Regions from separate parts of the Homo sapiens genome. Here regions 1, 2, 4 and 5 are each linked to region 3. Evidence: fine-mapped expression QTL. A gene starts in region 3. Each other region holds a variant in brackets. All regions are shown on one strand. Distances are from middle to middle.

Region 1 (5,105 bases), 50 kb after region 3:
ACTCTAAGTAGCAAGGTTAGACTGCTGCTAACCGCCCTTTCAAACATGTGAATCTGACCAGTTACTCCCCTGCATCACACTGTTTATGGTTCCCCAATATTTCATACTTCAGTGCTTTTTAAATATTTCCCCCACTGTCGGAGATCACTCTTCTCCCTCCTGCATCTGCCTGGGAAACATGTTTTTCTCTTTCAAAGCACAGCTGGGTGGCAGCCTCTTCCATGAAGCCTCTTCTGACACCCGCAGCAAGAAATGTGCACCCGCCTCTTGGTCCTGCTGCTCCGTCAGCACATCCATCTCATGACCCTCTGCTGCACTTATCCGTTTATATGACTTTCTCCTTCATTACACTCTGCCAACCAAAATTCCCTAAGCTATATTCTGACCTCAATGCAAATGTCATATTCTCAGAGTTTCCCTGACCTCTCCAAGAAGCCCTCCCACCCCTGCCTGTCATTCTCTATTACCCTATCCTGCCTGTTTCTTTCAGAATGCCCTTCACAATCCGTGATTGTCTGATTTTAGTTTTTGGTAGAAGCCATCTTATTTAACGCAATTGAGACTGGTAGTTGGTAAGTCGGTTAAAAATTAGATGACAAAATTAGGGAATCATAACAAGCGATATATACTATGTATATGAACTATTTTTGTAAAAATATAAATAAATGCTCATTCTTTTTGCCTATGTTTTAACCTAGGCCATCATCCTGAATATGTTGATTGGAATTCAGCATCATCTTTCCTGCATAAACTATAGCCATAAAGCATCATCTACAATTTCTGGTTTCATTTTCTTTAAAGTGGAGCATGAACGTAAGGAGATGTGTAAAGCAAAATTTCAAAAATTGTTCTTATCCTTTACAGTTAGGTCGTGCCCATGCCTAATTTAACAGCATTGTTTAAAAGCAATCCATTATTATCAAATCTTCTGAGGCATGTAATTTAGTTTTTTAAAAACAAACATCTCATTTTGCAGTAATTTTAGATTTACAGATAAATTGCAAAGATAGTACAGAGAGTCCCTGAATACCCGTCACCTAATCCTCCCAATTATTAACACCTACGTTACTCTGGTACATTCGTCAAAACTAAGAAACCAACAATGGCACATTATCATTAACTAAACTCTAGACTTCATTAGTATTTTACCACCGTTTTTTTTTTCTTTTGTTTTTTCTCTTTTTCTGAGATGGAATCTCACTCTGTTGCCAGGCTGGAGTGCAGTGGTGTGATCTTGGCTCACTGCAACTTCCGCCTCCCTGGTTCAAGCGATTCTTCTGCCTCAGCCTCCCGAGTAGCTGGGATTACAGGTGCCCACCACCATGCTCAGCTAATTTTTGTATTTTTAGTAGAGATAGGGTTTCATCATGTTGACCAGGCTGGTCTCACACTCCTGACCTCAGGTGATCTGCCTGCCTCGGCCTCCCAAAGTGCTGGGACCACAGGCATGAGCCACCGTGCCCAGCCTTTGCCACCTTTGTCATTGTTATCTGTCTGCCTCAGGATCCAATCCAAGGTTTCTCCTCACATGTAGTTGTCATATCTGCCCAGTCTCTTCTGGTCTGTGACAGTTTCTCAGTCTTTCCTTGTTTTTCATGACCTTGATAGTCTTGAGACATCCTGGCCAGGTATCCTATAGACTGTCTCCCAATATAGGTTTATCTGAAATTTTTTCCAGATTAGACTGGAGTTATGGGCTTGGGGACAGAATACAAGATAGGTGAAGTGCCCTTCTCAGCCACCTGGTATCTACTTGCATTACTGTTGATAGGAACCTTCCTATAATTAAGTTTTTATAAAAAATAATGCTCATCCTTTTATCACTCACATTTTATTGGTTTACATACTATTTCATTGAATAATGCAATCAGAAATATAAATAAAAATGTCATACACAGGACTGGGGACAAACACAACTGACTCTTGGTTAGTGTGAGTCTCACCTTGGC[G/A]AGGGGCTCCAACATAGGAGCATCCATCGCTGGGTTTTATGATGGAATGGGAAGCACTGGCTACTTCAATACTATAAGTTCATTAAGAAGCAAAATGAGGCTGGGTGCGGTGGGTCACGCCTGTAATCCCAGCACTTTGGGAGGCTGAGGCGGGCAGATCACCTGAGGTCAGGAGTTTGAGACCAGCCTGGCCAACATGGTGAAACCTCATCTCTACTAAAAACACAAAAATTGGCTAGACGTGGTGGTGGGCGCTTGTAATCCCAGCTACTTGGGAGGCTGAAGCAGGAGAATCACTTGAAGCCAGGAGGAGGAGGTTGCAGTGAGCCAAGATCTCACCATTGCACTCCAGCCTGGTCAACAAGATTAAAACTCCATCTAAAACAAAACAAAACAAAACGCCAAATGAGCATTAACCATTTATATTACAGATTGAGAGTTAGTTTGTTTATTTATTTATTTATTTATTTATTTATTTATTTATTTATTTATTTTTGAGATGGAGTCTCGCTCTGTCTACCAGGCTGGAGTACAATGGCACTACCGCCACCAAACCCGGCTAATTTTTGTATTTTTAGTAGAGACGGGGGTTTGCCATGTTGGCCAGGCTGGTCTCGAACTCCTGACCTCAGGTGATCTGCCCGCCTTGGCCTCCCAAAGTGCTGGGATTACAGGTGTAAGCCACCGCGCCCAGCCCAGATTGAGAATTTAAATCTCTCCCTCTGGTAAGTGGAGGTGTGTGGAGAGATTCTATTCTATTGGTTATTGTCTTTCCCTCCTCCCTGTGACCTGGCACTCAGTACAGTGCTTGGCACACAGTGGGAACTCATTACGTATTTCCTGAATGAATAAACAGAGGAAACTTTAGGTATGTGTCAATCACGGTCCAATAAGGAGATAGAAAATGCAACAGTTGGCCCGTCGCTGTGGCTCATCCTTGTAATCCCAGCACTTTGGGAGGCGGAGGAGGGCAGATGAGTTGTGGTCAGGAGTTGGAGACCAGTCTGGCCAACATGGTGAAAACCCGTCTCTACTAAAAATAAATATATGCAAAAATTAGCCAGACATGGTGGGCGCCTGTAGTCCCAGCTACTCGGGAGGGTGAGACAGGAGAATAGCTTGAACCTGGAAGGTGGAGGTTGCAGTGAGCCAAGATAGCACCACTGCACTCCAGTCTGGGTGACAGAGAGACTCCGTCTCAAAAAAAAAAAAAAAGCATGAGTTGTTTGAATAGAGAGGATTTAATTGTTAACTAAGCATAAATTTGCTGATAACATAAAATGCGCTAGGTAACATAAATGGCAAAAAGATAACGCAAAACTACCCTGGAGGTAGAAACTAGAGGAAGCAGTGGGAATTGGGGAGCGAAAGGAAGAGGCTCAAACTATTAAAGCTTAGATGTTTGGAGGAAGAGCCGTGTGGAGCTGAGCACCAGATTCTTAAGGAGGGCTACTGTACGTTCCAGCTGAGGTCTGCGAGGGGCTGTGAGGGGACCAGTTCTACAAGCATTGAAAATATTGCAGACTGGCTTCAGTGGTGGACTCGGGAAGGAACTGGTGCTACTGCTGAGCATGAAATGGTTAATGCTCATTTCACTTCTTAATGAAGCATTGCCTGGGTGCCATTCACAGGAGCAGAAAGTGGTCAGGAAAGAAGAGGGGCTTCCTCCTCCTCCGGCTGTGCGGTCTCTCTCTTGCATCTCCCCATGGGAAGATGGGAAGAGCTTCAGAGGGAGCCAGCTCCAAAGCGAAAATGGGGTTTGCAGAGGCCCAGCCCCCGAATCACAAAGCAGAGTACAGAAGGTGGGGCAGGGGCAAGGTTGGAGTTGAGAAATACAGCTTATTGACTGGCCCAGGCACAACTCAGGTCACAGTCATTGTTAATGCGGTATTTCACTACCTCATTATCCCCTTCAGCCTAAGCTGAACTTTTACTGCACTACTGCAGGGCCTTAGCCTCCATTTCTGGGCTCCATTTTTTTCTGGTGTCTTGGGGAGGCCCCAGATGTGTCTCAGCTATAGTAGGAATGTCTCTGGAGTACAGTTTTCAGCACTGTCCTTGTCTCCAGGCCAGTAACTAGGGCTGTCTGATGACCCTGGCCAGTAGGGCTCATCTCACTCCATCCATTAGGAAGCAGTTCTCTCATCTCTAGGTTCTGTCCTTAAATGTGCCCATACTCAAAGTTATTTGGACCCAAGGTGTAACATGGTTAACCAGACAATTCTTTTAATTTCACATAAGGTCCTTTCCTCCCCAGACCATTGACATGCTTCCATTTTTCTGGCCAGGTCAAGGGTGAGTTCAAGGGCAGGTGACTCCAAATTTAACATTTGTGACAATAGTCACAAATGGAACAGGCCTAAGCTGAACCTTTGCTATCTATCCCAATCCTGGAAGCCCATTCAAACTATGGATCTTGGCCTGGTGTAGTGGCTCATGCCTGTAATCCCAGAACTTTGGGAGGCCAAGGAGAGCAGATCATTTGAAGTCAGGAGTTAAATACCAGCCTGGCCAACATGGTGAAACCCCATCTCTACTAAAAAAAAAAAAAGATATATATTAGCCCGGTGTGGTGGCACATGCCTGTAATCCCAGCTACTCAGGAGGCTGAGGCAGGAGAATCACTTGAACCGGGGAGGCAAAGGTTGCAGTGAGCTGAGATGGCACCATTGCACTCCAGCCTTGGCGACAAGAGTGAAATTCCATCTCGAAATAAATAAATAAATGAATAAAATAATAACAAAAAGCAAACTATGGTTCTATAGATATCTATTTTGACAGTAAAATAAAACACAAGTTGATGAACTTATAAACAGATAGCAAAGTGAAACCAAACACTTTAATATAAAAATACATTAAATATTTGGTTTAATATGTACTTTTAAATATATACAATTTTTTTTTTGAGACAGAGCCTCGCTCTGTTGCCTAGGCTGGAGTGCAGTGGCTGTGATCTCAGCTCACTGCAACCTCTGCCTTCCCAGTTTCAAGCGATTCTCCTACCTTAGCTTCCTGAGTAGCTGGGATCACAGACGTGCACCACCACACCCGGCTAATTTTTGTATTTTTAGTAGAGACGGGATTTCACCATGTTGGCCAGGCTGGTCTTGAACTCCCGACCTTAGGTGATCCACCTTCCTCAGCCTCCCAAAGTGC
Region 2 (5,105 bases), 59 kb after region 3:
ACTGCCGTCTCAGCCTCCTAGTTTCAAGTGATCCTCCTGCCTTAGTCTCCTAAGTAGCTGGGACTACAGGTGCATGCCAGCATGCCTAATTTTTTTTTTTGGTTGGCGGGGGCGGGTCGTGGGTATTTTTTTGTAGAGATGGGGTTTTGCCATGTTGCCCAGGATGATCTCAAACTCCTGAGCTCAAAAGATCCACCAACCTTGACCTCCCAAAGTGCTGGGATTACAGGTGAGCTACCATGCCTAGCCTTGGCAAACAATGTCTGTGGAGAGCCAGCTACTGAATATTTTTGGCCTTGCTCACCATACAGCTTCTGTTGTAACTACTCAACTCTGCAACTTGTGTAGTGCAAAAATAGCCAATGGGCTGCTAGGGCTGCCATAACAAAGAACCACAGATTAGGTGCCTTAAGCAACAGAAATTTATTTCCTCACAGTTCTGGACGCTGGAAGTCCGACAACAAGATATTGGTAAGGTTGGTTTCTCCTAAGGCCTCTCTCCTTGGCTTGCAGATGGCCATCTTCTCCCTGTGTCTTCACGTGGCCTGCCTTCTGTGTCTGTCTGTCCTAATCTCCCCCTCTTTATCAGGATTAGGGCCCACCTTAATGACCACATTTTAACTTATTCACCTCTCTAAAGACCCTATCTCTATCTCCAGATACAGTCACATTCTAAGGCACTGGAGTTAGGACTTCAGCATATTAGTTTGGGAGGGACACTATAGTTAATAATAATATTGTATTGTGGCCGGGCACAGTGGCTCACACCTATAATCCTAGCACTTTGGGAGGCTGAGACAGGAGGATTGCTTGAAGCCAGAAGTTCGAGACCAGCCTAGGCAACATTGTGAGATTCCCGTCTCTACAAAAGGTATAACATAAATTTAAAAAGAAATTAGCCAGGTGTGGTGGCACAAAACTGTAGTCCTGGCTACTCAGGACACTGAGGTGGGAGGATCGCTTGAGGCCAGGAGTTTGAAGCGGCAGTGTGAGCTGTGACTGTCACTGCACTCCAGCCTGGGCAACAGAGTGAGACCCTGTCTCTAAGAATAATAATAATTATAATAATAATGTACTGTATACTGGAAATTTGCTAAGTGAGCAGTTGTTAGGTATTTCTACCACACACAAAAAGGTAGCTATATGAGATGAGGGAATGTGTTCATTTCACTGTAGAAATCATTTCACTATAGGAATATTTATTCTTTTTTCTCTCTCTTTTGGCCTGATTAAAATTTTTTAAAAAGGAAATCATTTTCCTATGTTTATGTATATCAAAACATCATGTTATATACCTTAAATATATACAATTTAAAAAATTAAGTGTCAAGGAGGAGGATAAAATTCAGCCCATAATACGTATGTAAGTGAATGGGTATGGCTGTGTTCCAGTGAAATCTCCTTTACAAAAACAGGCCCTTGCAAAATAAATAAATACATCATAAATAAATAAATAGGCCTCCAGCCAGATTTGGTGTGTGGGTCCTGGTTTGCAGACCACTGGGTGATACCATCTCCATTCCCTCCCTTCCCACCCTTTCTCATCTGCCTGTCATCAGACTCTTGCTCACATCATGCCACCTAAGGACCTCTCCCCAGGGTCACCTATGACTTCATTGTCACCTGTTCATCTCTGCGTCCTCCTATCTCTGGCCCCTCAGCAGTGTTGGCTCTGCACACATGATTCCTTTGAGAGCTTTTCTCCACTGGATTTCACATGGCCACAATTCCTACATTCCCTCCTGCCTCTCTCGCCCGCTCCTTCCCGGGCATCTTGGCTGGCAACTCCTCCCCTTCCCAGCCACTACGTGTTAGACTTCCTTAAAGCTCAGGGCTGGACTCCCTTCTTTTCTTGCTGTGTAATTTTTTCCAAGATGATCTCATCGACACCTACAATTTCAATTACCTTCTGTAAGCCAATGACTTCCAAATATATAGTTCCAGCCCGTACCTCTCCTCTGAGCTCCTGCCCATGAATCTAATCGCCTCCTTCCCATTTCCTCTTGTCAGTGTCTCTGTAACGTCTGTGTTGTGTGTCCTGGCTGTTTATGATTTGCTTTTCTTTGACAACTATAATCTCCAGGGTAAGTTTAGTTCCCTTCTAAAACCATTTCCTCGGGCCAATCTTCCCTGACCTGCCCTCCCCGCCCCACAGTCTATGCCAGACCCTCTTTCACTTGCTCTCCAAGCACACTGAGTATTTCTTCTGTATTCTTCAGAAATCCTGGTCTCTTACACCTCTTGGGTTCATTGTTCTCAGGTGGACAGTAAATTCCACAGGGCTAAGTCTACCGCCTTTCTCTTAGTATCGGAGCACTTAGCCCAGAGCCTGGCACATACGAGGGCCTCAGTAAATGCATATGGGATGATTGAAAAACTTTAAGTAAACTAATCAAACCCTCTGAGATACTGAGAATTGTTGTTTGATTTTAGTTCAGAGTATTTTGTATTGGGCTGTGCTTGTTTAAGTTGTAACCCTCAAGAAGGTTTCCTCTGTTTTTATATATATATATATTTGCCATCCCTTCTGTTTTCCTAAATTCTACCTAGGTAGAAAACTGAGATGGTTTCAAGAATGAAACACACTCTACTCGACAATTCTTTAGCTCTTGCATTTGACAAAAGGGATCAAGTTCTAGAGGATA[G/A]ACCCTCTAGAGGCAGTAAATGCTCAACTATTTACTAAGTGTGTGACCTTGAGGAAGTTATGTCACCTCCTTTGTTACTCCCTGGGTTCTTCATCTGTAGAATGATGCCACTAACACCTACCTGTGTCACATGTATAGTGTATGCACAGGGTCTGACACAGTGCCTGGCAATAGTAGAGGTCCCCTATTTGTTTAACAGATTTTTTTTTTGTGCACTCAGAAATGGGACAGATACTGTTTCGGGCACTGAGGATACAGCAGTAAATGAATCAGACAGATCCTGCGCTCAGGGGGCTCACATTCTAGGGCAGGGGGGAGGTAAGTGTTGGTGGGGGAAAAGACAGGAAAGATAAAGCCAGATAAGAGCATAAAGATGAATGGGGTAGAAGTGACGGTGTTTTAGCTGTGGGGATCAGAGAAGACTCCCATAAGGTGAACAGGAGTAGGAGTCAAAGATATTCATTCCTCTATTCCTTTGCTCCTCTGCAGGGAGAAATCCTACTTCCCGTGGTTACTAGGGAGAATGCCTCACTCTAACTCATTTCTGTCTGGGTGGGAGCAGTGCCAACAGAAATAAGAGATGGGTTTCAGGAGGCTCTGGCCTTGATAGGCATATGTCATCCCACCCAGGGAGTGCAATGCAAGGTCTTGTTGGTTTCTTTATTCCATAATAGTTGATATGCAAACTAGATTAGGCACTGAGAAATGCTTCTGTGTGGCCGGGCGCGGTGGCTCATGCCTGTAATCCCAGCACTCTGGGAGGCTGAGGCGGGCAGATCACTTGAAGTCAGGAGTTCGAGACCAGACTGGCCAAGATGGCAAAACCCCGTCTCTACTAAAAATACAAAATTAGCTGGATGTGGTGGCACACACCTGTAATCCCAGCTACTCGAGAGGATGAGGCTTGAGAATCTCTTGAACCCGGGAGGCAGATATTGCAGTGAGCCAAGATGGTGCCACTGCATGACAGCCTGGGTGACAGAGCAAGACTCCGTCTCAAAGAAAAAGAGAAAAGAAAAAGAAAAAAAGAAATGCTTCTGTGTAATGGAACTTCTGTTTGGGGAGCAATAGGTAAAAATAAAACCCTAGGAAATCCCCAGGTCTCTCTCAATGGGTTTGAGGTAAGAGTTGGCAGGTTGGTTTCGCCTCTGCTTGCCTGTGGGCAGAAAACCAAATGAATCAAAAGGCAGCCAGAATGGAATAACTAGCACCTTAAGATGACACCAGGAAACCTTGAGGGTTTCGCAGGCCCTCAGGATCTAAGCAGACAGTATGACTAATTTGTCTGTGCCCTAGACTTAGCTGCCTGTCTTCCCACACTTGTGGCTTCTCCTGAAAGAGCAGGAATGGCTGTGTTGAGTTGTTGCCCTGCAAGGTTGGACTTGAATAAAATTCAAAACACTTCACATCTTTGGGACTTAATAGTTTTTCTGAAGTAAGCTCCATACAGTTTCTCCTGTATAGTCAATGGGAGGGAATAAGGAAGAATGGGATATGTCTCCCTCCAAGAACCCAGGCACATTGCGTAGCATTAATAGACCCAAACAAAAGGATTCCCCTTCTTTCTCCAGAATCCCTCTTCAGCTGCACAGCTTGCAGCCACGAGAAGGTGAGTCTCTGTTGTGGAGAGAGACACATTTGGCTGACTAGGGGTACTGAGAATTGTCAACCTATAAATAAAGCATTCAGTCAGAAATTGTTAAACTCAGAAAAGCAGCTGAGAAATTAGTAACGGTGTTACTACGTTAAGATTTAAAGAGCTGGCCAGGCACGGTGGCTCACACCTATAATCTCAGCACTTTGGGAGGCCAAGGCGAGTGGATCACCTGAGGTCAGGAGTTCGAGACCAGCCTGCCCAATGTGGTGAAACCCCGTCTCTACTAAAAATACAAAAATTAGCCAAGTGTGGTGGCACATGCCTGTAATCCCAACTATTCAGGAGGCTGAAGCAGGAGAATCGCTTGAGCCTGGGAAGCAGAGGTTGCAGTGAGCTGAGATTGTGCCACTGCACTCCAGCCTGGGTGACAGAGCAAGAGACCATCTCAAAAAAAAAAGAAAAAAAAAATTAAAGAGCAAAGCAAGGCATGTGCCCGTAGTGCCAGCTACTCTGGAGGCTGACATGGGAGGATGCTTTGAGCCCAAGAGTTTGAGACCAGCCTGGGCAATATAGCAAGACCCTATCTCTAAAACAAAATTAAATTTAAATTTAAAAATATTTATGGAGCTGAGGGTTTTTAGAAGTATTTTACCAACTTACAAATTCTTACAATTTAGCAGCTCCAACACAGGCAGAGGGCAGATACACAAGAATCACTGCCAGTCACGAGGCTGAGGAGAATTTCAACACTGGTATGCATCTGTTCCTGAGGCCAATCCCTTAGCAAGGAAATCAGACACTTCTTTCAGATGCCTAAAAGTATCAAACACAAATATTTATGCGTCCAGGTATTAAAATTCATC
Region 3 (5,105 bases):
CCAAATCAAATACTTTACATGGATTAAAGGACCTGTGTTTAGTAAAAGCAGGACATACATCTTAACCATGTAATAAAAATCAAATACAATTACAATTGTTCTATTGGCTTCATTTTGGAACCAATATTGTCCAACGTAAGTAACAACTTTCTAGCTTAACTCCTTTTTCTGTAAATGAAATGCATGAACCAGGCTACCTCCTTGATATCACCTAGCTCTGTGATTCTGTAGTAATTCGAGAATATTATTAACTGGCAACTTCTCAGAGTGTCTCCCTGGCCACACAGCCTAAAAGTAACCATGAGCACTCTCCTATCAAACAATTTTCATGTTCAGCATAGTACTTGCCCAAGACATTTTTCTTACTTTTGCATCCCCACTGGACTGTAAGAACCAAGAGAACAAGACTTTGCTATATTTACTGGCACACCCCAGGGCCTTACACAACCTAATAGGCACCAAAAAAAATGTCTGCTGAAGAAATAACACTCATGTAATACTAATAATGCCTCTTTGCCCAACTTTAAAAAGCAAATAGTACATACTAGACATGTTCTGCATTTTCTAAGTTTTAAGAAATCAATTTTCCCACATAAAGTATTATGTGCTTTGTATTAATCTTACAAGCAAAGGTTTTAAAAATACTTAGTAACTGCCACGTTGTTAGTAACTTTAAATACAAGATAATAATATAAAAGCATTTTATCAATTCCAAAACCACCTGCAAATTTTCCGAATGAAATTGCACGGCAATAAAAATCTTTATCAAAATAAAGCTTAATGAAGCAAAGAACAACAAACACAAATCATCCCAGTAACTCAGGACGGTAGTGTCTTTCTGAAATCATGGTGACTTGCTAGCTCTCCTCATTTCTGTGTACAGCCAGGGCACTCGGGTATTGATAGCGAGATACAGATAAATCTCACAGATAACTCCATCATATTTAGAATCACACAGCTCCTAGTGGGTACCTTATTGCCATTAAAACTTTCCCCCAACTCCTCAACACTCTCTTCGGACCATAAAACTAAAATCCCACAGCTTCAAATCTGCTCCTCTGCCTCCCCCTCCCGCAATTAATCCTTTCGAACTTTTCCCAGGGGATTCACATCTGCCATCAAGATGCTTTCATCCTGCTACTATTCCTAAGTGCCTGCTTCCTCCCAGTTACGTAGGTACTCTCGACCCAGAAAAAAGGCACGGGCGAGGCAGGCGTCCCTCCCTCCCACCCCAGCTTCTCCCCGACCCCCAGCAGGAGCGCCCAGCAGGTGCCTCGCTCCGCACCGCGGCTCCCGGGCCGCTGAGAGGCGGGGCACACAAAGGACCCGCATGGACCTCCCCCCCGGCCTCCTAGCGTCTTCCCCCACCCCCCACAGCCCGGCGCCCCGGGTAGCTGGAGAGCGAGGGCGGCGGCCGCAGGCTCGACGGAGACCAGGGACGCTCGCCCCGGTCGCCCCCTCCCTGACCCCAACCCCGCCCACGTCCCACCCACGAAGGCTGCCCAGAACGTAAACCCTCGCCCGGCAAAACCGAAAACGCATCCCCAGCCCGGCTGCCCGGGCCCTGCGCATCCAGCCCGCAGCCTCCCACGCCGCGCCCGCCAGCCGGCGCCCAACGGCCGCCCCCGACCGCCTCCCACGGCACCCGGCTCTTTCCCAGCCCCGGAAGGGTCCCGGTCCCGCCGCCCGCTCCCCCACCTCCCGGGAAGGGCCCGACACCCGCCCGGCCGCCCCGCACTCACAGGCTGCCGGAGCAGGAGGTACACACGAAGGAGCCGACCGTCATGTTAACGTAGGTGGGGCCGCGCTGGTCGCAGTCGAAGCACTTTCGGTTGTGCGGGAGGCCGGTCATGTCCCGCAGCATCTTCAGGTGCTTCTCCTCCTGCTTCCGCTTCGCGCTGGCCGCCATGGCCGCGGCGCCAAGGGAGGAGGCCGGCAGGGCCGGGAGCCGGGCAGCGCTGCGCCGGGGGCCCGCGGTCCCACGGGCCGCCCTGGCCGCGGCCGCCGCCCTCCGTCTGCGCGCGCCGCCCGCGCCGGACCCGGCCGCAGCGGCTTGGCTGTACTGGGCTCGACGCGGCCCGGGCGCTGTGGTACGCGGGCTGACGGGCCACACCAACCGGCACAGCCGGGACAACCGCCGCCGCCGCCGCCACCTTCCCGACTTCTCCTGAGGGGAAAAGACGAGGAAGGGGACGGCAAGAGGAGGCCCGCCCTGGGCGGCCGGTAGCCAAGTGTCCGCTGGCGCCCTCTGCTGGCCAGGAGGAGTCACTGCGGCCTCGCTGAGGCATGGGCCGGGTCTGGAGCCAAGTAGGGTAGACACAATGGTGATAATAATATTAATAATAGACAGTATTTATTGAGCGCTTATATATGCAAAGCGTTTCACATGGGTTACCTTCCCCTTCTGTTTAAAACTCTTCAAGGGCTTTCCACTGCTTTGAGTATAATTCCAAATTCCTCACCGTGCCGTAAAAAGTGCTCCATAGTCTAGCCCAGTCTACCTCATTCTTCGTCGTCCTCACTCAGCCACACTGGATTTTGAGTTTTCTGAACACAGCAAGCTCCTTTCTGACTCCTGCAGGACCTTTGCCCTTGCTCTTCTCTCTTTATCTTTGGGCCAGCTAATTTGGGGGGGCTTGGGGTGTCCTGTGCACTGTAGGATACTGGGCGGCGTTCCTAGCCTATACCCACTAGATACAAGAACAAACCCCCCAATTCCCATTGCTGGCAACCAAAAATCCCCAGACATTGCCAAAAGTGGAGGGAACTTTAGGGCGGTGCAGTCACCTGGCTTGAGAACTGCTGCGTGTGGAAACCCGGATCATCCATAGCTGACATCCTCTAAGTCAGGTGGGGCTCAGATGTCACCTCCCCCGCCAGACTGTCCCAGATCAGCCGAGTTAATGTTGCAGCTCACCTTTCTCGAAGTTGCTCTCCATCAAATTGCTGCGTTGTATTTTCGTCTCAGTTCTAGCTATTTGAAATACTGCATCTTATTTCGTGTTTACCATGGGTGATCTGGACTCTCCCTTTAGGCGCTAAACAGCCTGGCCCCCGTATTTTCTGTGCCACTCCACCCCATTCCCCTCGCAGAGCTGGAGACTAGGTGTTCAATGTTGACGGAATGAATACATGAAATCGTTCATGTAATCTTCACAACAACCCTTCGAGGTGAGCGTTATTGTTATTTACATTTTACAAAACAGGAAGATGAAACCCTGAGGGATTAAGTAAATTTACCCAAGGGTACCTATGGCGAAGCTCAATTCCAACCCAGACAGCCAGACTGCAGGACCCAAATCCCCACTGCAACAATCAACTTCGTCTCTCGTTTTCCAAAGGAGTACAGGGAGACCCAGAGAGCTGAAGTTCTCAAATCACTGGGCTGTTGAATGGATTAGAATCTACGTTTCCTAACAGCCAAGACCAACCTCCACATCTCTCATGAAAGGGATTGGGTGAATCAACAAAGTGAGACTTCATATTAATATAATACTACTAATAATAATTAATGTTTTTAATATTAAAAGAAATGGACAGATAGATTGGCCAATGAATGTTTTTAAACTTTTCTATTATGGAAAATATCAAACTACCATGAGCCCATGGACCACTTTCAGCAATGATTAAGCCCATGGCTAATCTTGCTTTATAAATACCTCAACCCTCCATCCCCTCTCCTATTATTTTAAAGCAAATTCTAGGTTTCGTACCATTCATCTAAATGGTACATAGTTCCATTTGTATCCCTAAAAAATAAAAACTTTATCTCTTTCAAACTTAGCCATGATACCGTTAGCATATCTAAAAAGTTAACAATAGGCTGGGCACGATGGCGCACACCTGTAATCCCAGCACTGTGGGAGGCCAAGGCAGGTGGATTACCTGAGGTCAGGAGTTCAGGACCAGCCTGGCCTACATGGCGAAACCGGGTCTCTACTAAAAATATGAAAATTAGCCAGGCATGGTGGCATGCACTTGTAGTCCCAGCTACTTGGGAAGCTGAGGCAGGAGAATCACTTGAACCTGGGAGGCAGAGGTGGCAGTGAGCCAAGATTGTGCCACTGCACTCCAACCTGGGCAATAGAGCAAGACTCCGCCTCAAAAAAAAAAAAGTTAATAACTCCTAAAGATCATCAAATATCGCACTAGTGTTTAAGTTGGCAATTATCAATATTTTAATGAGATTTTTACAGTTTGTTTGAACCCACTCCTTGCAACTGGGTAATATGTCTCATAAGGTTTCTTTGGGTCTCTCCACCATCTCTTTTTTTTTAATTATAATTCATTTGTTTTAGTAATTGGGCACTTTATTCTGTAGAGTTTCTCATAATCTGTATCATTTAACATGTCCCTCTGTTCTATTTCCTAAAAATTGGTAGTTAGATCTAGTTCACTAGTATCCAGTTCAGTATTTTTGCGGGGCAGGCATTCATTTCATTGTGTTCTTCCATCAAGAGGGACATAATTGAGGAGAGGATATCTTTTTCATGATGTTGGTAACCATTGATGATTAATGTCTAGATTCATTAATTCATTAATGATTAGAAAATACTGATATTCTAATTCTGCCATTCTGGCTGGGTGCGGTGACTCACGCCTGTAATCCCAGCAACTTTGGGAGGCTGGGGCAGGAGGATCATCTAAGGTCAGGAGTTCGAGACCAGCCTGGCCAACATGGCGAAACCCCGTCTCTACTAAAAATACAAAAATTAGCTGAGCATGGTGGCAGGCACCTGTAATCCCAGCTACTCGGGAGGCTGGGGCAGGAGAATTGCTTGAACCCAGGAGGTGGAGGTTGCAGTGAGCTGAGATCCCACCACTGCACTCCAGCCTGGGTGACAGAATGAGACTCTGTCTCAAAAAAATAAAAAATAAAAATAAATAAATAAATAAAACTAATTCTACCATTCCTTCATTTATCAGCTCAAATTTTCTATAAAGAAAAAATTTCCCCTCATCTACCATTTTATTTGGTATAGTACATGTCAGAAAGGCAGGATAAATATTTGATTCCTTTCCTTTATTCACAAATTTTCAAAATAATGTATTGGCTTCATTTCACCTTCCAGTGGTGATCAATATATATAGACAGAGATATATAG
Region 4 (5,105 bases), 66 kb after region 3:
CCTAATCAAAGCACTTTTAGTCACTGCATCCAATTTCCATCCTCATCCAACACATGGTGGGGTCTTTTTCTCGTTTCTTCTGAGTTGACACACACAAAACCCAAGAGTCCCACTTTTGGCGAGGAACGTGTTGCTGTCAGCTTGCATTTGTTACCGCACATTGGTTCCCCGTGTCCCAGTAATGACCCCCTGTAAAGGCCACTGGGCAAGAGAATTGCAAGATCGAGCGAGGCGGCGGGAATTACAGGAAAGGATTAACGGCAGAACAGCCTGTTGCGACAGCGAAAAACAGCCCGAGGACAGGGGCGTGCTCCCATCTGACAGGCGGAAGTGTGCCAGGGTTTATGTATTAGGTCACAGCAAGAAAGCTATTTTTGCTGTGCCCTCTGACCTTCTGTAGAAGGTGAGCCCCAAGATGCCTATGATACACACCAGACTTTTGCAGGCTGCCCTGACTCAAGAGGGAAGAGCAGATGCTGACTAGTGCAGGGTCCTGTAGAGTTTGGGAATCCACCATTCACAACAGGATGAAAGGATTTTCATGGGTGTTGCCATCTGCTGGGTATGTGTGTTGGCAGCGGGGAGTCATTTACTAAGCAGATGCAGCCTTTCTGTTCCTCCTTCCTCAAACTCCAATTTAAAAAATAGCTAGTCCGGGCACAATGGCTCATGCCTGTAATCCCAGCACTTTGGGAGGCCAAAATGGGAGGATCTCTTGAGCTCAGGAATTTGAGACCAGCCCGGGCAACATAACGAAATCCTGTCTCTACAAAAAATACAAAGATTAGTTGCGTGTGGTTGTGAGCACCTGTAGTCCCAGCTACTTGGGGGACTGAGGTGGAAGGATCACTTGAGCCCAAGAGGTTGAGGCTGCAGTGAGCTGTGACTGCACCACCGCTCTCCAGCCTGGGCAACAGAGTGAGACCCTGTCTCAAAAAAAAAAAAATAAAAAAAATCTAATGGCCAAGTAGGCTTTAGAATTCTAAAAAGCTAGCAACGAAAGGAAACATGGTGCTATTGGCAGAGATTTGAAGTAGCAGTGGTCTCCCACAAAAGTGCTATGATGTACAGAGACTTAGAGGAGTCGCAGTGTAACCCTGGTTAAAGAGATTGGGAAGGTTCCATGGAAGAGGGGCTGAGCATTGTTCAATTTGTTGAGTAAACCCAAAAAGCAGTGCACTGAGATCAGGCCAAGCTAGAGATATCTCTGTGGCAAACACTGAACACTTTTATCACCCCCTTACATTTGGTAGAAGATTGTTGGAATCACCACTCTCCACAAACAGTCAGAAAAACTGGAACCAGATGGCATCTCTAAAAAAATGTGGCCCACAGCCATAAATGTGTGACTTGCATTCTCTTTCAGAACAAGAAAAGATGATGTAGATACTGCTGGTTTGGACTGGCTCAGAGAGAAAAGAAACAAATAGATGGGAGTACGTGCCAAGGGTCACTGATGCTTCCAGAGGGCAGTGGCCTCGGCTGTCTTACTCAAGGCTGAATTCTTAGCCCCTACAAGACTCATGCCTGGCATGTAACAAGTGCACAGCCAGTTTTCCTCCAATGAATGAGGGGCTTTCTCAGAATAAAGTTTTTGTAATCAGAGACCAAGACAGCCACTGATTCTCTGCAGCCTTGAAGTCTGTCTTTTCTGAATATCCAGACAGAGGACAAGTCTTGATTATAACGATCATTAGCCTAGAGTACTGCCCAGTTCTGAACTCAAGGATAAGAATCCCCTCCAAGCTCCTGCCAGGCTGTCTCCACACTCTGACATCACATCCTGCCTCTTTGATTAGGTTTCACAGTGAATTTTGCCCCTCCCAAACACACTTTGTTAATCTTTTTTAGGTCTGGGAATTCAGCCAAAAATTCCTGAAGGATGAATTCCTTTTCCTCGGTGAGGTTGACATTTGAGCACACATCGCCCTCTTGTGTCTACGACACATTTGGCAACGTAGTTTCCAGCACCTGCTAATGCACACAGCAAATTGAAGCCTTGTTAACATCCCTTAAGCCTGCAGACCTCGGTACAAGGCGGAGGGAGAACAAACGCACCAATTTTCCCAGAATAGTCAAGAACATCCAGAAGAATCCAGAATTTGTGAAGATGGTACTGGTAACTACCCAACCCAGAGCTTTGAAAGTTAAAAAATGTATAAGGTACCATAAAATTCATATTCAAGAGCTCACAGTCAGAAAATGTTTACCTTCTAAAAGAGCTGGACATTTTCCATAAACCGAAAGTTGGACTATACAGTAGATACATGAAGATGTCCTCCTAGCATTTTCATATTTGACCTATTGACTTTTGAATCACCATTCATATCCTCTTTGATGTTGCCCATCCACACACCCACACCCACATAAGCCATGTGTGTAAATATGCCCATCTGCAGGTTTTCTGTTCTTAATGACAATTTCAGACTGCTCGGCTTGCTCCTACACCTTCTTATGGAGATACAAGAACTTTGGATCTCTGGCCCCCCTCAGTCCTCGCTCCTCCATCCCTGTAAGCAGGTGCAAGGCGTGTTTCTGGCACAGTCCACCAAACTCCTGAATCTGAAGCTCCCACAGTCACTGACCCAAGTGTGGCCTGGATGAGACTGGTGGCCCAAGCCTCTATTATGCTGTTTTTTTTGTTGTTGTTGTTATTTGTTTGTTTGTTTTGAAATGGAGTCTTGCTCTGTCACCCAGGCTGGAGGCCAGTGGCGCAATCTCGGCTCACTGCAGCCTCTGCCTCCAGGGTTCAAGCAATTCTCCTGCCTCAGCCTCCCTAGTAGCTGGGACTACAGGCGTGCGCCACCACACTCGGCTAATTTTTGTATTGTTTGTAGAGACGGGGTTTCACCATGTTGGCCAGGATGGTCTTGATCTCCTGACCTCATGATCCGCCCGCCTTGGCCTCCCAAAGTGCTGGGATTTCAGGCATGAGCCACCATGCCCAGCCTTATACTGGTTTTTACAGCAAAGAGACTAGAATAAAAGATACTTTCACATTGACACTATAAAAATCGTCCTTTGAACACTTAGTTATGTATTGTTCTGGGTTAGGTAGTATAGATAAAGACATACTTTG[C/T]CCAGTAGGAAGGGACTCCCTTCATCTACGTACATTTTATGCCTCTATCTCTCATACAGGTGGACCTTACCTTCCGAAAACTGCTATCAGGGCCTCTGCAGGAGGCCCTGGCTGTGATAAATGTGCATCTGTAGAGTGCACAACCTGAACATCCTTACCAAGCAGCCCTGACCAATATCTTCCTGCCTAAAGAGTGCCAATGCTGAGAGTATGCCTTTAAAACCCCATTTTGGCCATTTCTCAAGAAGTAAGTGAGACTTGTACTTCCCTATCTCCCCTTAAGGGGAGTCCCCAGTGCATTAGTGGTAGAGCTCTCCCTAAGGACTTTTGTGTGCGTCTCCACCCTCTGTTCTTCTAGGTGCATCCTGTTTTTAATGGGGCATAATCTCTTACCTCAAAAGAGCAAAGCTCCACTGGCAAACCTCTAGACCACATTAGTGATCAGCAAGTAAGGGGGACATTTGGTGCAGCATCACATTTCTGACATCCCTTCATGCTTTTTATGTCTGACTCTGTCATCTCTGCTAAAAGAAGCCTCTCTTTTTATTTCCTTTTTTTCTTCTAGTTTTTTTTTTTGTTTTTTTTTTTTTTTTGTAGACAGGGCCTAGTGGTCTTCCTAGGCTGGTCTCAAACTTCTGGACTCAAGGGATATTCCCACCTCAGCCTCCCAAACTGTTGGGATTACAGGCGTGAGCCATTGGGCCCGGTCCTCTTTTTTTTTTTTTTTTTTTTTCTGAGACGGAGTCTGGCTCTGCCGCCCAGGCTGGAGTGTGGTGGCGCAATCTCGGCTCACTGCAGGCTCCGCCTCCCTGGTTCACACCGTTCTCCTGCCTCACCCGCCCGAGTAGCTGGGACTACAGGCTCCCACCACCACGCCCGGCTAATTTTTTGTATTTTTAGTAGAGACGGGGTTTCACTGTGTTAGCCAGGATGGTCTTGATCTCCTGACCTCGTGATCCGCCCGCCTTGGCCTCCCAAAGTGCTAGGATTATAGGCATGAGCCACTGCGCCCGGCTCCGGCCCTCTTTTTTCTTCTCTTATTCCAATATCACACACCAAAGAAGACTCGGTCCAGCAGCAGGAAATAAATCTGACCCTTGCCTCTAAGGTCTTTCTTTGATCGCAGCAGTGTTCATCTTTGTCTAACTGTAGCATAGGAGGAATATGATTTGCTCTGACCTAAATTATTTTCATACATTTTTTTTCTGATTTCCCATTAAATTGAGGCTAAGGGTAAAGGTCAGGGCCCTCTTGGTTTCTTGGTTTTGGATTGTAAAAGAGATTAGATTAAAAACATAAAATCTAGGCCAGGTGCGGTGACTCACGCCTGTAATTCCAGCACTTTGGGAGGCCGAGGCGGGCAGATCACCAGGTCAGGAGATCAAGACCATCCTGGCTAACACGGTGAAACCCCATCTCTACTAAAAATACAAAAAATTAGCCGGGCGTGGTGGCGGGCGCCTGTAGTCCCAGCTGCTCGGGAGGCTGAGGCAGGAGAATGGCGTGAACCCGGGAGGCGGAGCTTGCAGTGAGCCGAGATTGCGCCACTGCACACCAGCCTGGGCGACAGAGCGAGACTCCTTATCAAAAAAACAAACAAACAAACAAAAAACCCATAAAATCTCACTGAGTTGTCTCTCCAGGCTAGTTCCTACATTGTGAAGCACCCAATTGGATCAGTGTGATTGGCGTTTCCGAGTGATTCCGAAGACACTTCCCTTTGTCTGGGGCATGAGAATGGGTTCTTCTTGGGTGGATAGAGAAGTCTAAACATAACCGGCCGTCACTTGCTTCCACTCTAGTCTGGATCCTGTCACAACACCAAAACTAAATCCAGTCCAAACTGACCTGCCCTCCACCCCCTTCCTGGGTTTCCTCCCACTACTCTGGCTCACCTCTTGTGACTCCAGAAGAGGCTCCTCCTCCTTGTTCGTTTTCTGGGTCCCAGGGCCAACCTTCCAACAGCCTATTTGACATCTCCATGTAGATGACTCACAGGTACTTCCAATTCTGTAGATGACTCACA
Region 5 (5,105 bases), 85 kb before region 3:
CCTTGGCGTTTGCTTCCTCTGTCTCTCCACTCAAGAATGAGGGAAGATGCTGAGAATTTAGAATTCAAATTTTACTCTCATTGCTTAAATTGTAACTTGGATAACATCTCAAGATTTCAGAGAACCGATTAAAAAATTAATCTATGGGCATTTTAATCACCATCTAAAATATTTTATCTAGGATCACTTATCTTTTTTTATAAAAGCTCAAATCACAACATTCTCTTTTCATCAGTCCCTACAGCCCTGTGTTGGACAAGCACAGATGTCAAAAATACACTTAAATATACGTTGAATTTTTATCCACTAGAATAAAATAAGCAGAATGATATGCATTCTTGGCGATAGTCTTCACTGGAAAATACCACTGTCAGCCCAAACTTACACAACTGACTTCAAAATCAGACTAAGATGTGGCATAAGAAGAGCTATTTCCTACCTTCACTATATATTCAGGATTTGCCAACTCCAAGGCCTTGAAAAACATGTGAATGTTTGAGACTAAGAAAAATTGGGAATGGTAAGCTAGTGGCCACCTTAAGAGTACATGCCCCATTTCAAAAAGATGGATTCAGAATGCAACGTTTTAAAACACTGTGCTGGTCACACAAAACAGAACTGCAGACAGAATTCAGTGTAAGCCTTGAATGTGCAACCCCTATAAGAGCACAATAATTGGACTTTTTAAAACCAAGGTTCACGATACTTGGGTCTTTGCAGATTAAATACCTCAGTGCCCAGTATATCTCTAAAAATAAACAAGTGTTCAAATGCTTGCTAAATGAATTAACAATATAAAAGCTCTCCAAATACTGGATATAATCATCAAATGACCAATACATTTAATTAATGAGTTGTGGAATTGTATGTCCTTTGCTGTGCTGAAGCTGGTTTGCCAAGGCTTGGGAAAGCCACTGGTTGGCTATCTCTTTCATCAAACTGCATTTAATGACATCAGATTGGCAGGTAAAATCACCATGAAGACAGTATTTATACCATAAATATTAGTAAATGCTACAAAACAGGGCCTTTTTTCTTTCATGAAAGATGGTTGTTAAACATTCAGCAGCACAACACTGGATTACATCGTGGTTATATATTCATCTGTTCACAAACAACCACGTGAAAAGTTTAATGTCACTAAGTTTTAAAACATAAAAAGAAAAACTTAACTAATGAGGATGAATACAACAGGTTAAATACAAATTTTAATATCACCTTTTAAAAAATAAATTTTAAAAGTGTATAGGCCACAAACTGTATCAATAAAGGTGGAATGCTTTACAAAATAGGAGTCTGTGATACTTCAGATGAGTCTTCAATCTAAAGCACGCTCCACTAGTTACCATATTAATTTACTTCTAAAGTTAAAAAAAAAAACCAAGAATAAACTGTACTGATTTCATCAAATTATGAAAGGAATTCAAGTGATTAAAGTTTTTTTAGATATACAAGACAAGAACGTTAACTTGTTCAGAATTTCAAAATATTAAGAAAGAATGCATTCATATATAAATGTGATAGCATTTAATCCAAATCTGTTCCCCAGAGCAAAAAGCTGCCACTAGCTTAACCTCTCTATGCTTTGCTTCTTTCATCCTAAAAGTATAGGTCCACTGCAGGGATTGTAAGAGATGAAATATGAAAATTGTTTTACAAATGACTATCTCATACACAGCCCATAATACCACTGCTATTATTACCTTGAAGTAGTGTTAAAAAGTCTGCAATTTCAGTTCTCACTAGCAAACAAAAAAAACCCAGGGAATAGTTATGTTTGCCCTGCAAGTAAATACTGTTCTAGAAATACACAAATTTAAAGTATAGTGGTTCTCAAAGAGTCTGGAGACCCTTAATGGTCCCTACAACCCTTTCTTTGAAAGGCTGTGAAAAGTCAAACTATTTTCATTGTACTACTGAGATATTACATAGTTTTCATTCTCCTGATCTCACAAGTGCACAGTGGAGTTTTCCAGCGTGTGTATGCTGTGTAATTTTTAAGTTGGAATGCAAAAGCAGCATGAAAATCTCACTGCTTTTATTAAGCCAGATTTAAATGCATAAAATGTAAAACAATGTTCCTGTTCTCATTAGTTTTTGTTTTGGAAAAGTTATTTTTATCAAAAATGGTATTTATGTTAGCAAGTTATTAGTTTATTACTGTTATACTTAAATAAA[TAAAC/C]ATGTTTTAAAAATATCTCAGTATTAATTTTAATACAATAAATTCTCAGAGATACAAGCTACATCAACAAAGCTGTTGGGGAGTGTTAAGGTTCTGAAACTAAAATGCTCCAGAGATGTTGGTACAGTGGTAAACCAGCAGCCAGGTCACCCTCTCCATGTTGCCAATTGACAGGAACTGTACTAAAGTGGGTGTGTGTGCAGGGGGGCGGGGAATTTCACAGGTAAAGCACTAATGTGCTTTTACAAATTAACAGAAGGACTTATTTTGAGGAAGAAAGTGATTACCAAAACTCTATTTTCACAAAAATAATAAAATATTCTCTATTTCAAAAAATGGGGAAAAAATGTCTTTAAACTATGTCAAAAGTTTGCCATCCTGAAAAAAGATCTTTCCTGAACAGGGATATCTGCAGATACCTGAACAGGAAAAATGATGTGACTAAACCAGTAAGCCAGGAAATTTGAAGGTCTTCAGCCTTGTTACCTTCCAGGATTTTTTCTCCTTTTTAGTACTCAACATAATTTTGATGGTCTATATAAAACTAGAATAAATCTAAATGTAAAAGTCTAACGAAAGCTGATTTTCTTTAATAATAAACAGTGAATATCATGAGAAAAACCACTTTAAAGCTACCTCTCTTCTTTTTTTCATTTTTTAGAGATGGGATCTCACTCTATCCCCAGGCTGGTGTGCAGTGGTGTGATCGTAGCGCACTGCAGCCTCCAACTCCTGGGCTCAAGTGATGTTCCCACCTCACCTCCAGGTAGCTAGGACTCACAGGCTCTCACACCACCATACCCAGCTTGGGTCTCTTCTTGAACTAAACATTTTTATTTTATAAGCGCTAATTTAAAGTCAGTAAGAGCCCCCATTTAATTACAAACTTCAATAGTTACCCAGAAAAAGAAATAGTCTTTAAAATCATTTTGATAACAACTGTTTAATTTACTATTCAGATGGAAAGCCTGGTAGGATATTTGGGTAATGGTCTGTAATTAGGTAGCATAACTTTGTACACATGAATCAACTGGGACCCGATACAATCTAAAACAGAAATTCAAATATATTTTCCCTCAATGAAAAGGGCTGAGGAAGTCCTCCAAAATGTGGAGACATTTCAAGTCTACATCAACACACATCTGGACCTGTGCAGCATTCATTTAATTCTAAAAGAAGAGGCATACTGCTCAGAAAAGGGGCAGAGATTTCCCAGTCATCTTGCTTATTAAAACGGTTTAGATAAACCACACTTTTAGCTAGATGTACACTAGACAGCAATGTTTTAACAAGTCTAAAACACTATACAGGTTTTAAAATACTATGATAACAACTCAGTCATCATTGCAAAAAGGCATTCAACATGAATAAAATGTTTGAGGAAACTGATGTTTACCTCTTTTAATACCAAAGCTTTTTAAAAAGTTTTAATCAATTTAAGATAAAACTTTTAAAATATGTACTACATATCTGTGTATGCAATTTCACCTTTACTTAATTACCTAGAGGCATAATAAAGAATAATCATCAGATGATGTAGTATAGTGATGTCCTCTAGGCTGGGTAGCGGTCCTTACACTAATGGCCTTGGACAGTGTATGCTCTCAGAGTGTTTTTCAGTCTCCTTCCTTTCAAGCCATCCCTTCTAAACAGCTAATATGCTATAGTCTGGACAAGCAAATAATTAAATTTATTAAAATCTCTCATAAAAACAAATGCATAAGCTCTAACACACAGACTTTGTGACTTATATGGGTTGCTCAGAGGCATTTTTAAAAAAAACGATTCCAAGTTTCTGAGTTGTGTTCGGTTTTCACAAGACTGCCAGATTACCTCTAGATGAATGAGGCATTACTGTACATAGATACTTAAACAAGTTCATTTGAATATTAACAAAAAGATATAACTAAACTTATTATCTTTTCCTTTAAAACAAAGTATTCCGTAACTTTAAGGTAACACTGAGTTCCAGTTTCTTTCCCCCAAAAAACAAACATAAACAAATATCCTATAGATAATATCAGTTTGCCCAAAAAAAGAAAGAAAAAAACTGAGGTGCAATAATGTCACAGTTAATGCATGTCTACTTCCAATACATTCAAAGACAATTTTTTTTAAAAAAAATCAATAGTTAAAATAGGCCTTTTGCAGTCTGAGAATTCAAGATACTTAGAAAAATTTGTAAATACACATACATGCAAATTCTTCATATATACAAATTTCACAAAATTAATAAGCTGCAAAGAAATTAGTAGGATTATGGTAAATCTGACAAGCTACATTTAAATGCTTTACCACTGGCATATTCCTGAATGTAGCAGTCATAGTAGTTTTAATAAATTTTCTACATGGCCTTTTTATAAAAAGTCACTAAGAAGTCTTTTAAGAATTCAAGATGTTCTCAATTCACTACTCATATTTAAGGCCACTTTGGTAAAGGCATTGCAGCAAGAACACAAAAACAATAGCATATTTTATAATATTTATTTTTTTTCACCTGCAAACTGTAGCAAAACATGATCAGCTTTATTATGCAGACAGGTATCCCTCTACATTTTAAAAGAATTTAGGCATGTATAAATAGAAGAGCTCTTTAGAAAGGAAAAATTCAAGAATGAATAAAACCTTCCAATTTTGACTCTGTTACTTTCCAGTAGCAATGGTTAAAATGATTTTAGGTCATTCATTCCAAGATATATGACAGCACCTTAAAAGTGGCTGATCTATTTCCCCAGTAACATTTCTCACATAACAATGTGTTAAAGTTACAAATACTGATATGCACAAATAGCTAATTTCTAAGAAAAATATGTACAGTACTGCAGCATAATGAATGTGGTATCTGCAATAACTTAATATTAGCCAATTTTAATATACATGATACCGCTACCCTTTTCTGCCAATTCACAGGTTAGAAGGTGTT

Which allele goes with the higher level. Positions count from the first base shown, and alleles are read on the strand shown. Sizes are in standard deviations (SD) of each study's normalised expression. Not every link is listed here.
With allele G in place of A in region 2, the expression in memory regulatory T cells of the gene that starts at base 2,175 in region 3 is lower (moderate effect, 0.57 SD a copy in Schmiedel 2018).
As copies of TAAAC replace C in region 5, the expression in monocytes after interferon gamma of the gene that starts at base 2,175 in region 3 goes up (moderate effect, 0.60 SD a copy in Fairfax 2014).

The links.
Region 1: its variant is fine-mapped to the expression of AGFG1 in fibroblasts (GTEx, PIP above 0.99).
Region 2: its variant is fine-mapped to the expression of AGFG1 in memory regulatory T cells (Schmiedel 2018, PIP 0.94).
Region 4: its variant is fine-mapped to the expression of AGFG1 in fibroblasts (GTEx, PIP 0.97).
Region 5: its variant is fine-mapped to the expression of AGFG1 in monocytes after interferon gamma (Fairfax 2014, PIP 0.95).

The regions. Positions count from the first base shown.
Region 1 is chr2:227,418,958-227,424,062 of GRCh38, reverse strand. No RefSeq gene overlaps it. Among named protein-coding and RNA genes, the nearest start is that of SCYGR1, 34 kb to the right of the region's middle. The variant G/A (reference allele first, on the strand shown) is at 1,950.
Region 2 is chr2:227,410,255-227,415,359 of GRCh38, reverse strand. No RefSeq gene overlaps it. Among named protein-coding and RNA genes, the nearest start is that of SCYGR1, 25 kb to the right of the region's middle. RefSeq lists an enhancer at 3,551-3,750. The variant G/A (reference allele first, on the strand shown) is at 2,646.
Region 3 is chr2:227,469,226-227,474,330 of GRCh38, reverse strand. It overlaps AGFG1 (ArfGAP with FG repeats 1), which reads right to left and starts at 2,175. Exons shown (of 13, transcript NM_004504.5): 1 at 1,743-2,175. The coding sequence starts at 1,909. It overlaps MIR5703 (microRNA 5703), which reads right to left and starts at 2,199; the gene lies at 2,144-2,199. It overlaps LOC124907994 (a long non-coding RNA gene), which reads left to right and starts at 2,232. Exons shown (of 2, transcript XR_007088114.1): 1 at 2,232-3,171; 2 at 3,342-3,543. RefSeq lists a silencer at 1,467-2,186 and an enhancer at 2,299-3,262.
Region 4 is chr2:227,403,101-227,408,205 of GRCh38, reverse strand. No RefSeq gene overlaps it. Among named protein-coding and RNA genes, the nearest start is that of SCYGR1, 18 kb to the right of the region's middle. The variant C/T (reference allele first, on the strand shown) is at 3,080.
Region 5 is chr2:227,554,670-227,559,774 of GRCh38, reverse strand. It overlaps AGFG1 (ArfGAP with FG repeats 1), which reads right to left. Exons shown (of 13, transcript NM_004504.5): 13 at 1-5,105. Among named protein-coding and RNA genes, the nearest start is that of SCYGR2, 42 kb to the left of the region's middle. The variant TAAAC/C (reference allele first, on the strand shown) is at 2,179.